Regions from separate parts of the Homo sapiens genome. Here region 1 is linked to region 2. The links come from fine-mapping of genetic effects on gene expression. Tissue or cell type: whole blood. Region 2 holds a variant in brackets; the other region holds the start of a gene. All regions are shown on one strand. Distances are from middle to middle.

Region 1 (5,150 bases), 56 kb after region 2:
GCTGGGATTACAGGCGTGAGCCACTGCACCGGTCTCAGGAAGAATTACACAATTTTTCACAAGTGTTAAAGAGTGCTGCGTAAAGGGGACAGAACAAGAGTAAATATTTGATGATTAATTAAGATTTCCTGAAATTCTTTTCCCTGACAGATGGGTGGTATAATTCCAGGAAGTATTTCAATCTCTAGCCTAGATCTTAGGTTTGCCATTTTAAAACAAAGAGATGAATGTCTTCCACCAAGTTAATCTGTTTATGCCTTAGTCTGATCTGAGAAATGAGGATAATAATTATGCCTAACTTATACCTAACTCATTTAACTCAACTGAGTTTAAGTGATTAACTCATAAGTGAATCATTTAATGTTCATTATGAGTTAACTTGAGTTAGTTTAACACAAGTTAACCAACTTAAGAGAGTTACATGATCAACTCATTTAATGTTCAGATTCAATAAATCAAGCAAATTTCTTAGACCACTGCCTGATACATGGTAGATACTCATATTAGCTATAATGATTAGTATTCCAAAAAAGGGTGGACTGAGTGAAAGAAGCGAAACACAAAGGAATACACTCTGCACTCCAAAGTTAACCTGAAAACTTTGGAACCTTGTCGGGGGAGGTAGGACATGCCTCATTATTCCCTCCTCCCTTTTGGAATTCAGGCCCAGCTGACCAGCACTAACATTAAAACAGATCTTAAGACTGACAAAGCAGACTTTGTAGCAATAAGATACCAAATTCCAGCGGGACTCTAGTATGACATCACATGACAGATAGCAAGCCCTGAAAGTGAAGTATTTTACCCCAAATTACGTTTCTTCGCCATATCTTGAAATAGTCCTGCAAAGCTAAAGCTATCTCTTGTGGGGAAAATCTACATTCTGAAGAGAATCCCCTTCCTTTTCTAGGCCTTTTTCCTGATTCAGGAGAGAATCAACTCTGATAAGAAACATTTACAATTTATTCTCTCAATAGACTGCTACCTGGAGACTTCCTCTGCCTAAGGGAAATCTTGGTCTCCTCAACCTCTTATCTTAATGCAGACATTCCCTTCTTTTTTCAGTTTTTTTTTTTTTTTTTGAGATAGTCTCGCTCTGTCGCCCAGGCTGGAGTGATCTCGGCTCACTGCAACCTCTGCCTCTCAGGTTCAAGCTATTCTCCTGCCTCGGCCTCCCGAGTAGCTGGGGTTACAGGCTCCTAGCACCACGCCTGGCTTTTTTTTTTTTTCTTTTGTATTTTTAGTAGAGGTGGCTTTTCACCTGTTAGCCAGGCTGGTCTCGAACTCCTGACCTCAGGTGATCCACCCGCCTTGGCCTCCCAAAGTGCTGGGATTACAGGCGTGAGCCACCGTGCTAAACCGCCTTCTATTAATTCTATCTGCAGCCACAAGTCCTTATATAATCCAGACATTCCCTTCTGTGGATTCCAGGTGTTTGGACAAAACTTTAAATCAATTGTTCATCAGAAAATCTTTGAATCTTAACTATGACCTGGAAACCACTCCCCCTCCCCCAGTAGTCTCACCTCTCCAGATGGAACCAATGTATGTCTTGTATGTACTGATTGACATCTTATGTCTCTCCAGAAGCACACATTCTCAGGATTTCCCAAGAGCTGTATCAGAGGCCATTGGTCACTCATATTTGCCTCAGTATAAATCTCTACAAATATTTTAGCGTTTGACTCTTTTCAGCACAGGTAGAAAAATTAAATATTGTTTCTTTTTTACATACTTAGTTTCACCCCAAAGCTCATTAGATTCCCTAACACTATGTAGGTTCTATTTATTCTGAAGAAGGAGCTTGACCTGACTCACATTATTTACTAGCTGAAAGGCACATTTACCTGCGTTGAACTCGGGATCGTCTTCCAGGGCGACGACAGCTCCCTCTACGGCATCCACGGCGCTCCCGCCCTCCCGGAGGATGCCGTAGCCCACGGTGGCGGCTCTGACCATGCCCTGGTGCACTCGCTCCTTCCGATCCTTGGAGATGGGACCGGCTCCGCCGCCGTGGACCACTACGATGGGATTCATGTCGGCGGATCCTAGGCAGCAGGAAGGCGAAAGCGTCGTCCAAAGCCAGCCCAAGGAAGCCGCGCGGGTACAAGGTCCTCGGGAGACCCTGTGGGGACAATGCCCAGTCTCTGTTCTGAACGGCTGGGTTCGCAGCTGGGGGTGGGTAGGGGCGGCTCGGTCGAGCTTGGTACGAAAAGCCCAGGGGCCCGGCGCCCTCCCGCGTTCCTCTCCGCCCCCGGCCCGGACCTGCTGGGGGTCTCAGTTTCCCCGGGGACGTTAACCCGCGCCCACCGCCGCCCGCCTCCAAGCCCCGGCGCCGAAGGAGGATGTCTATTTCGCCTTCGGGAAAATGTCTATTTTCGTTTATTTCATTCGCCCTCCCGCGTCTCGGGCGGCTGCTCCGGGAGGGCCGCCGACTTACCCAGGGCACCGCAGGACGCGGACGCCGAGACCTCAAGCTGGGTCGAGCCAGCCCCGCAGCCGCCCGGTACCGCCGCTCCCCGACGCCGGCTCGAAACCGCTCAGCCCGCAACCGCTCTGGTCACAACGGTTCTGCGCCTGCGCACGAGGGCGGGACCGCCGCACGGCCCAGTTCCCATAAAGCCCCGAAGGCCGGCTGGCGCGCACCTGTCTCACTCCTCTCAAGAGTCTACGCTCTTGGCCGGCCCGAGCTTCCTGGTGGCACGCGGGGAACCTCCTGCTCCTGACCAGGCTAGGGGCTGGGTGGTTGGGTTGGTGGCGAGAAGCGTGAAGTGGCATGCCACGATTTTGTAATTGCAGATTGAAAAGCAACGCTAGGCTGTGCGCAGTGGCTCATGCCTTGTAATCCCAGCACTTTGAGAGGCCGAGGCGGACGGATCACCTGAGGTCGGGAGTTCGAGACCAGCCTGACCAACACGGAGAAACCCTGTCCCTACTAAAAACACAAAATTAGCTGGGCGTGGTGGCGCATGCCTGTAATCCCAGCTACTCTGGAGGCTAAGGCACGAGAATCGTTTGAACCTGGGAGGCGGAGGTTGCGGTGAGTGGAAATCGCGCCATTGCACTCCAGCCTGGGCAACAAGAGTGAAACTCCGAATCAAAAGAAAAAAAAATTATACTGGGACAATGGGCATAAACAGGGACAGATCCAGGCAAACTGTGATTGATCTCCTGTGGATAGGAGAGTCCTTTCCCTTCTTGTTTACCCACAACTGATAACATATTTTACCACTCTTGGGAATTCCCTTTACTCCTGTTTTACCTTCGTTTCCTGCCTTAAGGCCCAGTTTAAATGAACCCCTCCTGCAAAGCCTTCTCCCTGGCACCCCACTAAGGATCAGTCATTCCCTTTCTAGTGACCTATTGTTAGAGATTACCACAAATTTATTGGCTTCAAACAACACACATTATCTTACAGTTCTGGTGGTCAGAAATTCAAACTGGGTCTGCAGGGTTGAGTTCCTTCGGGAAGCTCCAGAAGAGAATCTGTCTTTTCTTGCTTCTACAAGCTGCCTGTATCCTTGGCTCATGGCCTCATCCTCCATTGCCAAAGCCAACAGCCTAGCATCTTTAACTCTCTCTCCCTCTGGCCTGTTTCTGCTGCTACGTCACTTCTCTCTCTGTCACCATCATCACGATTTTCTTTTCTGACTCTGACTCTCCTGCCTCCTTCTTAAAGGAAGTCCCTTGGGATGACATTGGGCCCACCCAGATAACCCAGGATAATCTCCCTTTCTTACAATTTCTATTCTCATCTGCAAAGTCCCTTTTGCCATGTGAGGAGTGTTCACAGGTGGAGATTCGGATGTGACACCTTTGAGGGCCGTTATTCTGTCTCCCACACTCACCTCTTGGAAGAGGGTTATTTTAGCACGTCTCAACTGGTCGTGAGCCTAGTTGTGTCATCATAATACAGCTCACCATCATTTGGTTTCAGCTATTTATAGGAACCTGAACCCTACCCTATGCCTAGCCCTAACTCAAACCCCATCTCTACTGTTTTTCCTGATTGATCTGGAATTCAGTGATCTGGCTGAGGCTGGGGAAGGTGGCTGGTGGCCCAAGCAGGTAGAATGTTGGTTTCCATTTGATCCTCCCATCTCAGCCTCATGCGTTTATCTACTTCTCTGATGGGCTTCGTATTCCCCATCCCAATCCAAAGTCTCTTAGATAAATTCTCTAGAAAATAAACTTCTGGTCTTTGAGGAGGAAAGAGGAAGCATCTTTTTGTCCGGCTCTGTGGGATAGGAGAAGGAATCTGGCTAACTCCTCTGTAGACGATGTTCCATCAACAATCATTTTATGGATTAAGGATTGTATTCAACTGTCCCTGACGAAACGTGACCACAGTGGTTTAACCAGATAACTGTTGATTTGAAAACAACAATAACAACAACAACAACAACAACAACAACAAGACATCTAGTGGTTGCTGCCCAGGCTGGTGCAGCAGCTCCAAGGTGACACAGATGTCCCATCTCCTTCTCTTCCCTTCAGCATGTGGCTTTCACATTTATGGTGCTCCTAGGCACCTTGATCACTATTGGGGCAGAAGGAATGGGGAAGGGCAAAGGGAAGAAGGCTTTTGCCAGCTCCCCTTTGTTCCTTTAATTCAGGAAAGCTCTCTAGCTTTCCTAGAAGTCCTCCAAGTGGACTTTTATTGGCCAGAACTGGATTGGGGGGCTGCCCCTAGTGGCAAGAGAGTCTGAGTTTTTATTTTAGCAGGGTACATCATGGCCCTGGATAAAATCAAGGTCTCTTGGCAAGAAGGAAGGGTGACAGGCTATTGGAGAGACAACTGGGAACACCTGCCACTCCTGCCTCCCCATCTTTGAGATTCCTGTGTGTCTAAGCCCTGAGTCTCTCAAGCGTTCTCCAGAACAAATGGATTCACCTCTCAAGTAGATTACAACTTCCTTTAATCTGCCATTTGTTATTCATCTTCCAAAGTGACCTTTTTTACCTGCCATTGTCATCTCTCCCATTCTTCCTGTCTTTGTGGGTAGTATTCTTTTTAAGATTGTTTACTATCATTTTAGAGGGATTTTTGAAGGGAGGAGTAACCCATTTGTGTGACTGGGGAGGTTGACTAGAGCCCCAAGGAAGTGATTCTAACTACAGTGGCTCTGGATGTTCTAGGAGGAGGAGGG
Region 2 (5,150 bases):
GGGTCACGCCTACACCTATGCAAAAGGGAGAGGACACCTGCATTTTTTTTAGCCAGACAAGGTTGATGGGGCCACTTCCTTGTTCCCATGAAACAGCTACAAAGGCCGGGTGCGGTGGTGCTGTAATCCCAGCACTTTGGGGGGCCGAGGTGGGTGGATCACTTGTGTTCAGGAGTTCGAGACCAGCCTGTCCAACATGATGAAACCCTGTCTCTACTAAAAGTACAAAAAAATTAGGCAGGCATGGTGGCGGGCGCCTGTAATCCCAGCTACTCGGGAGGCTGAGGCAGGAGAATTGCTTGAATCTGGGAGGTGGAGGTTGCAGTGAGCTGAGATCGTGCCACTGCACTCCAGCCTGGGTGACAGAGCAAGACTCTATCTCAAAAAAAAAAAAAAAAAAAAAAAAAAAAAAGAAACAGCTACAAAATCCAAATGCAGTGATGGTTTTGTGCAAAGATGAAGGCTGATGGGAGGACTTCAGAGGAGCAGGTGGGGGGCGGGAAGAACGAGTGTCCCTTCCCAGCCTTCCCCACACACCATCACCTCTGACAACAGGACACTGAAGGGGACTAACGTGTGCCCCACTCCTTCCTTTGGTCTCAGAGTTTACAATCCCTCAAGCTAGAGAGGAAGAAGTCTAGGAATATTATTTGAGAAAAATGTGTATTATGCAACAGCTACGAGATCAAGGCCCTTCCTTACCCAGGACTCTTCTCTGCAGCCCAGCAGTGGGGCTGAGTCCTGACTGCAGCAACTCCTGCTTGGGGACACTTGGCCTTGGCTCAGGGCCCGTCTTGTGCTCCTTATTATCCCACCATTTTGGTGGGTGAGCCACATGACGATGTATCTGTCTTCCTGGCTGGAAGGAGCAAGTGGGGGCGGGGCCGGGCTGCCAGAGCTTGTTCACCGTGGGATCTGGCATCCGGCATCTGGCAGCGCCCAGGGCAGAGCGAGCTTCCACTGTTGATCTGGGTGGGTTCTTCGGGCCATTTGCTAGCGTTTGTGTTTTGGACAATTCTGCTCTAAAATAAATTGTAGTATTTGGACGAAAATGAAGGTCAGGAAGAGGAATGTTCTTTTGGTTCCAAATTTTCTAAATAGACTGCTCTGATCCAGATAGAGTACCTTCCCTTTGGGCGGCTGAAGCCATGGATAGTTTATAGTTTGCTGCCCTCTTGTGGCACAGAAGTGATAAAAAGATTGTCTTCCCCTTTCAGATGCTGTCAGGCTCATTTCTCTGTTTGACAGTGAGCCATGGACAAGCTGTGGGGCAAAAGCAAGAACTGTACGTGGTCTCCATTTACAGAACTCCCAGGCTGGTGGAGGTGGCTTTTGGTACAACTCAGGTCTGAGGGCAAAAATACACACTTTGGCTTTGCACAAAGGGGCTGACGACCCCATACGTACCCTAGCACCTGGGCTGCCCAGCTAAAGAGGTCAAGTGGCCACAAGCTGAGCCTACGGTAATCTTTAATAACTAGAGTAAATTTCCTTGTGAACTGGAGAATTGGTAAGACAAGCTCAAAACCAGATCTTCCAACTGGCCTCCCTATCCCCCAGCTCCCTCCTTCCTTTTTTCTATCTCCTTAGCGATTGTTGTCTTCTCCAAAGGGTCTCCCCTTTCCAAACCCCAACATGATTCTGTTTTGCCTCCTGTTATGGACTGAATTCTGTCCTCTCCCAAATTCACATGCTGAAGCCCTAACCCCCAGTACCTCAGCATGTGAGTGTATTTGGAGACAGGGCCTTTGAAGAGGTGATTAAGGTTAAATGAGGTCATTAGGGTGGACCTTAATCTAATATTATAATTTACATATTATATATAATATATATTATAAATTATAAATTATATATCATATATTTTTATATAATATATAATATATACAATATATGATATATAATATATAGTATATAATATATAACAAATTATATATAATACATAAAATATATAATATTATATATCATATATTATATATAATAGTATATATATTTATATGATATATAATATATATGTATTATATAAATGTTATATATTTTATTATATATAATATATATGTAAATTATAATATATATTATATATTGTATAAATTATAATATATAATAAATATACCATATTAGATATATTGTAACTTATATATTATATAATTTATATATTATAATATATAAATTATATCTAATATGGTGTCCTCATAAGAAGAGGGGATTAGGACATATAGAGACAGATGGCAGGGCTGTGCACGTACAGAGGAAAGACCATGTGAGGACACAGTGAGAAGATGGCCAGCTATTACACAAGCCATGGAGAGAGGCCTCGGGAGACACCAACGTGGCCGACACCTTGATCTTGGACTTTTAGCCTCCAGAGCTGAGAAAATATTAATAAATTTCTGTTGGTTAAGTCACTTAGTCTGTGGAATCGTGTTGTGGCAATCTTCAACTAATACACCTCCTAATAAAATACTTGTTTCTAAAGGGGGAGTTGTTGCATGTTGAGGTTTTTACTGTGCACCTCTGTCTGGGGTGAATGCTGGCAAACTGCAGGAAGACTGCGCCATAAACCCTATCATGGTTTGGCTTCTTCCTTGACCCACTCAGAAAAAGTTCAGTTCTTCTGAAAAACTCACGAGTACTCCACAAGGTGGCACATATCACCCTCCACACCATCCTCATCTCGAGGTCTCTGTAGTACACCTGAGACCAAGGGGGGAGCTCGTGTACATTCTGGTCTTTGTCAACAGTGACTCCCAACCACACCCTTATTCTTTCAAAATATATTTTATTAGCGGCACATGGAATGTCAAGTTAAGCAAATTCTTTCCAGAGAGAAGGTGAGCCTGACAGACTAAAACGTTGAGCACGGATGATACAGCAGAAATAACATTTCCAGTGTAATGAGAGATAAAGAGGAATACTGCCCA[C/A]CGAGGAAATGACTTTCTTCACCATGCTGACCACACTGCACAGCGCCCGATCCGGCTGGTGAGGATGGGGAGGTGGGAAGAATCTCAAAGCACTGGACAGGGTGAGGACTCAGGAAGTCACGGGGTCAGCCCTACAGCATCAGCTCCTCTCTGTTGTTGGAGAGGCCCTGAGCCCCATTACTCACTATACGAGGACCAGAGTGTCTTTGGCAGGTGGAGGCTGGCTCACGGGAGAACACCAAGTGAGGGGGCTCCTCTGTGAACCCAAGAAACTTCAAGGAACCCCACAGCGTCTCCCTTATGACCTCCCATCTCCAGATTAGGAAGCTATGGATTCCCAGAGGGTCCTTTGGAAGTATCTAGAAATGTCCAGGTAAGTCAGAGAAGGGCTGAACTTTCTTAGAAAAATCACTTTAGTCTCTCATACATGAAGAACATTTTCCTTAAAGGATTCTGGTTCTTTTCCCTGATGTTCTTGTGCAACGTTCTGAGGGTCACCTGGGCTTCGCCCACCACTGCTTCTACTGCTGCTGTGTCACTTTCAAACAGCTCCACCTCCACCGGCCCCTCCCTTCCCACCTTCCAGCCCACAGTGTCTGCAGGCTGTGGGTCTCCCACATCTGTCATGTCAGGATCATGCTGCTGCTTTCTTTCTTTTTTCCCTTTTCTTTTTTTTTTTTTTTTTGATACAGGGCCTGGCTCTGTTGCCCAGGCTGGAGTGCAGTGGAGTAATCATGGCTCACCTCAGCTTTGACCTCCTGGGCTCAAGTAATCCTCCTAATACGGGCATTTCTCTCATCGCTTCAGAACCCGCCCCACAACCAAACATTCAGATGCTTATTAAGGCAACAAAACAAGTGACAGACGGGACAATTTTTCCAATTCTAGATCTAATTGATTAGGCTATGTCTCATGAGGAGACTGTACTTGACCTCTAAGCTAGCATCTGGAATACAATCTTCCAGCGGCTTAGGGAAGGTCGGTGATAGTAGTATCGTCAGGATCAATTCCGAAGTGCAGCTTGCCGTCCTTGGCGGCTGCCCAGGGCATGGAGGTGGAGGTCCACTTTGCCACCCAGTCTCCTGTTTTGCTAACCACGATGAGGCCACCTAAACCTTTAACCCTTGACTTCATATAACCCAACGATAGGTCCGCAGCCTCTTCTACCGTCTTTCCTGAAAACAAGGAAGGGTTGAGAAACAACACACATTACTGAAAGGAATCTCATGGGAAAATCACTTGCCATTTGAAATGCCAAAGTGAGCTAGCAAGGATTTTTGGTAAATGAACGCCTGAATGCTTAAAAGGAGGGTCCTCACCTCCTTGCCCTGAGACAGCGCCCTAGCATCAGCCTGAGCAGAGGGGTCTTCCCTCCCACATCCAGGCTCAATGTCTCTCTACTGCCCCCTTCTCCTGAGATGTGGAAGATAACAGTACTCAATGCTCTACCATTCCAGACCTAAGGGAAGGCGGAGAGTCAAAACAAGGTGTTAACGGCCTGAAAGCAACATCTGTAGCCAACAGGAAAGGGTTTCCTACACTTCTCCATGCGCTTACTTATCAAATACCTTCTATGCACTTATCTTCACAAATTATTTTACTTGTCCTGTGGTCTGTGTACCTTGTTCTATGTGGAACAGGGTGAGTCTAGCCAGGTTCACCTTCAGGATGCTTTCCCCATGCCCTGTGGTTGAGACGGCTCCGATGTCATTGTCGGCATAACCTCCAGCTCCTGCTCAAAAAGGGTGATTGTTCTGAGCAGTAACAGTCAAGAAATTCAAATCCATATTAGAAGTCGGACGCTACATGAAAGTTAAATCGCGAAGGGTGCTCAAGTACCGACAAAGGTCAGGTTAGTAGCCATGATCTGCGGAGGCAAAGGTGGACTAGAAAGCGTCATGTAGATGCCCCAGAATTTAGGAGGATAAAGGGAGCCTCAGAGGGGCAGGCCTGACCTTTCACAGAGCAGCTACAGCAGGACAGCATCTCCTTGGCCCCAAAGCACAGCCATTCCTTTTTGCTCAATGAAGCCACCCTCTCCCTGTCTCCTCCTCATGCCCCACACACTATGGAGGAAGAAACAGCATGACTGCATTATATGGATCTCTAGCAAGGCCATCATGTTCCAGTGATTTGGGGAAAATGATACCCACAACCTAACATCCATGCACACTGTCTAATGGAGGGCAGTTATATTTGTTGAGGGTGGGCATAATTGGACCTGAGGGAACT

The links. PIP is the estimated chance that this variant, and not a neighbour inherited with it, causes the effect.
Region 1: ASRGL1 starts here. The variant in region 2 is fine-mapped to the expression of ASRGL1 in whole blood (TOPMed, PIP above 0.99).

Annotation. Positions count from the first base shown.
Region 1 is chr11:62,334,865-62,340,014 of GRCh38, reverse strand. It overlaps ASRGL1 (asparaginase and isoaspartyl peptidase 1), which reads right to left and starts at 2,567. Exons shown (of 7, transcript NM_001083926.2): 1 at 2,441-2,567; 2 at 1,848-2,125. The coding sequence starts at 2,037. RefSeq lists an enhancer at 1,987-2,656.
Region 2 is chr11:62,391,022-62,396,171 of GRCh38, reverse strand. ASRGL1 (asparaginase and isoaspartyl peptidase 1) reads right to left here. Exons shown (of 7, transcript NM_001083926.2): 6 at 4,540-4,650; 7 at 2,760-4,093. The coding sequence ends at 3,888. Among named protein-coding and RNA genes, the nearest start is that of SCGB1A1, 25 kb to the left of the region's middle. RefSeq lists enhancers at 1,072-1,121, 1,232-1,301. The variant C/A (reference allele first, on the strand shown) is at 2,919.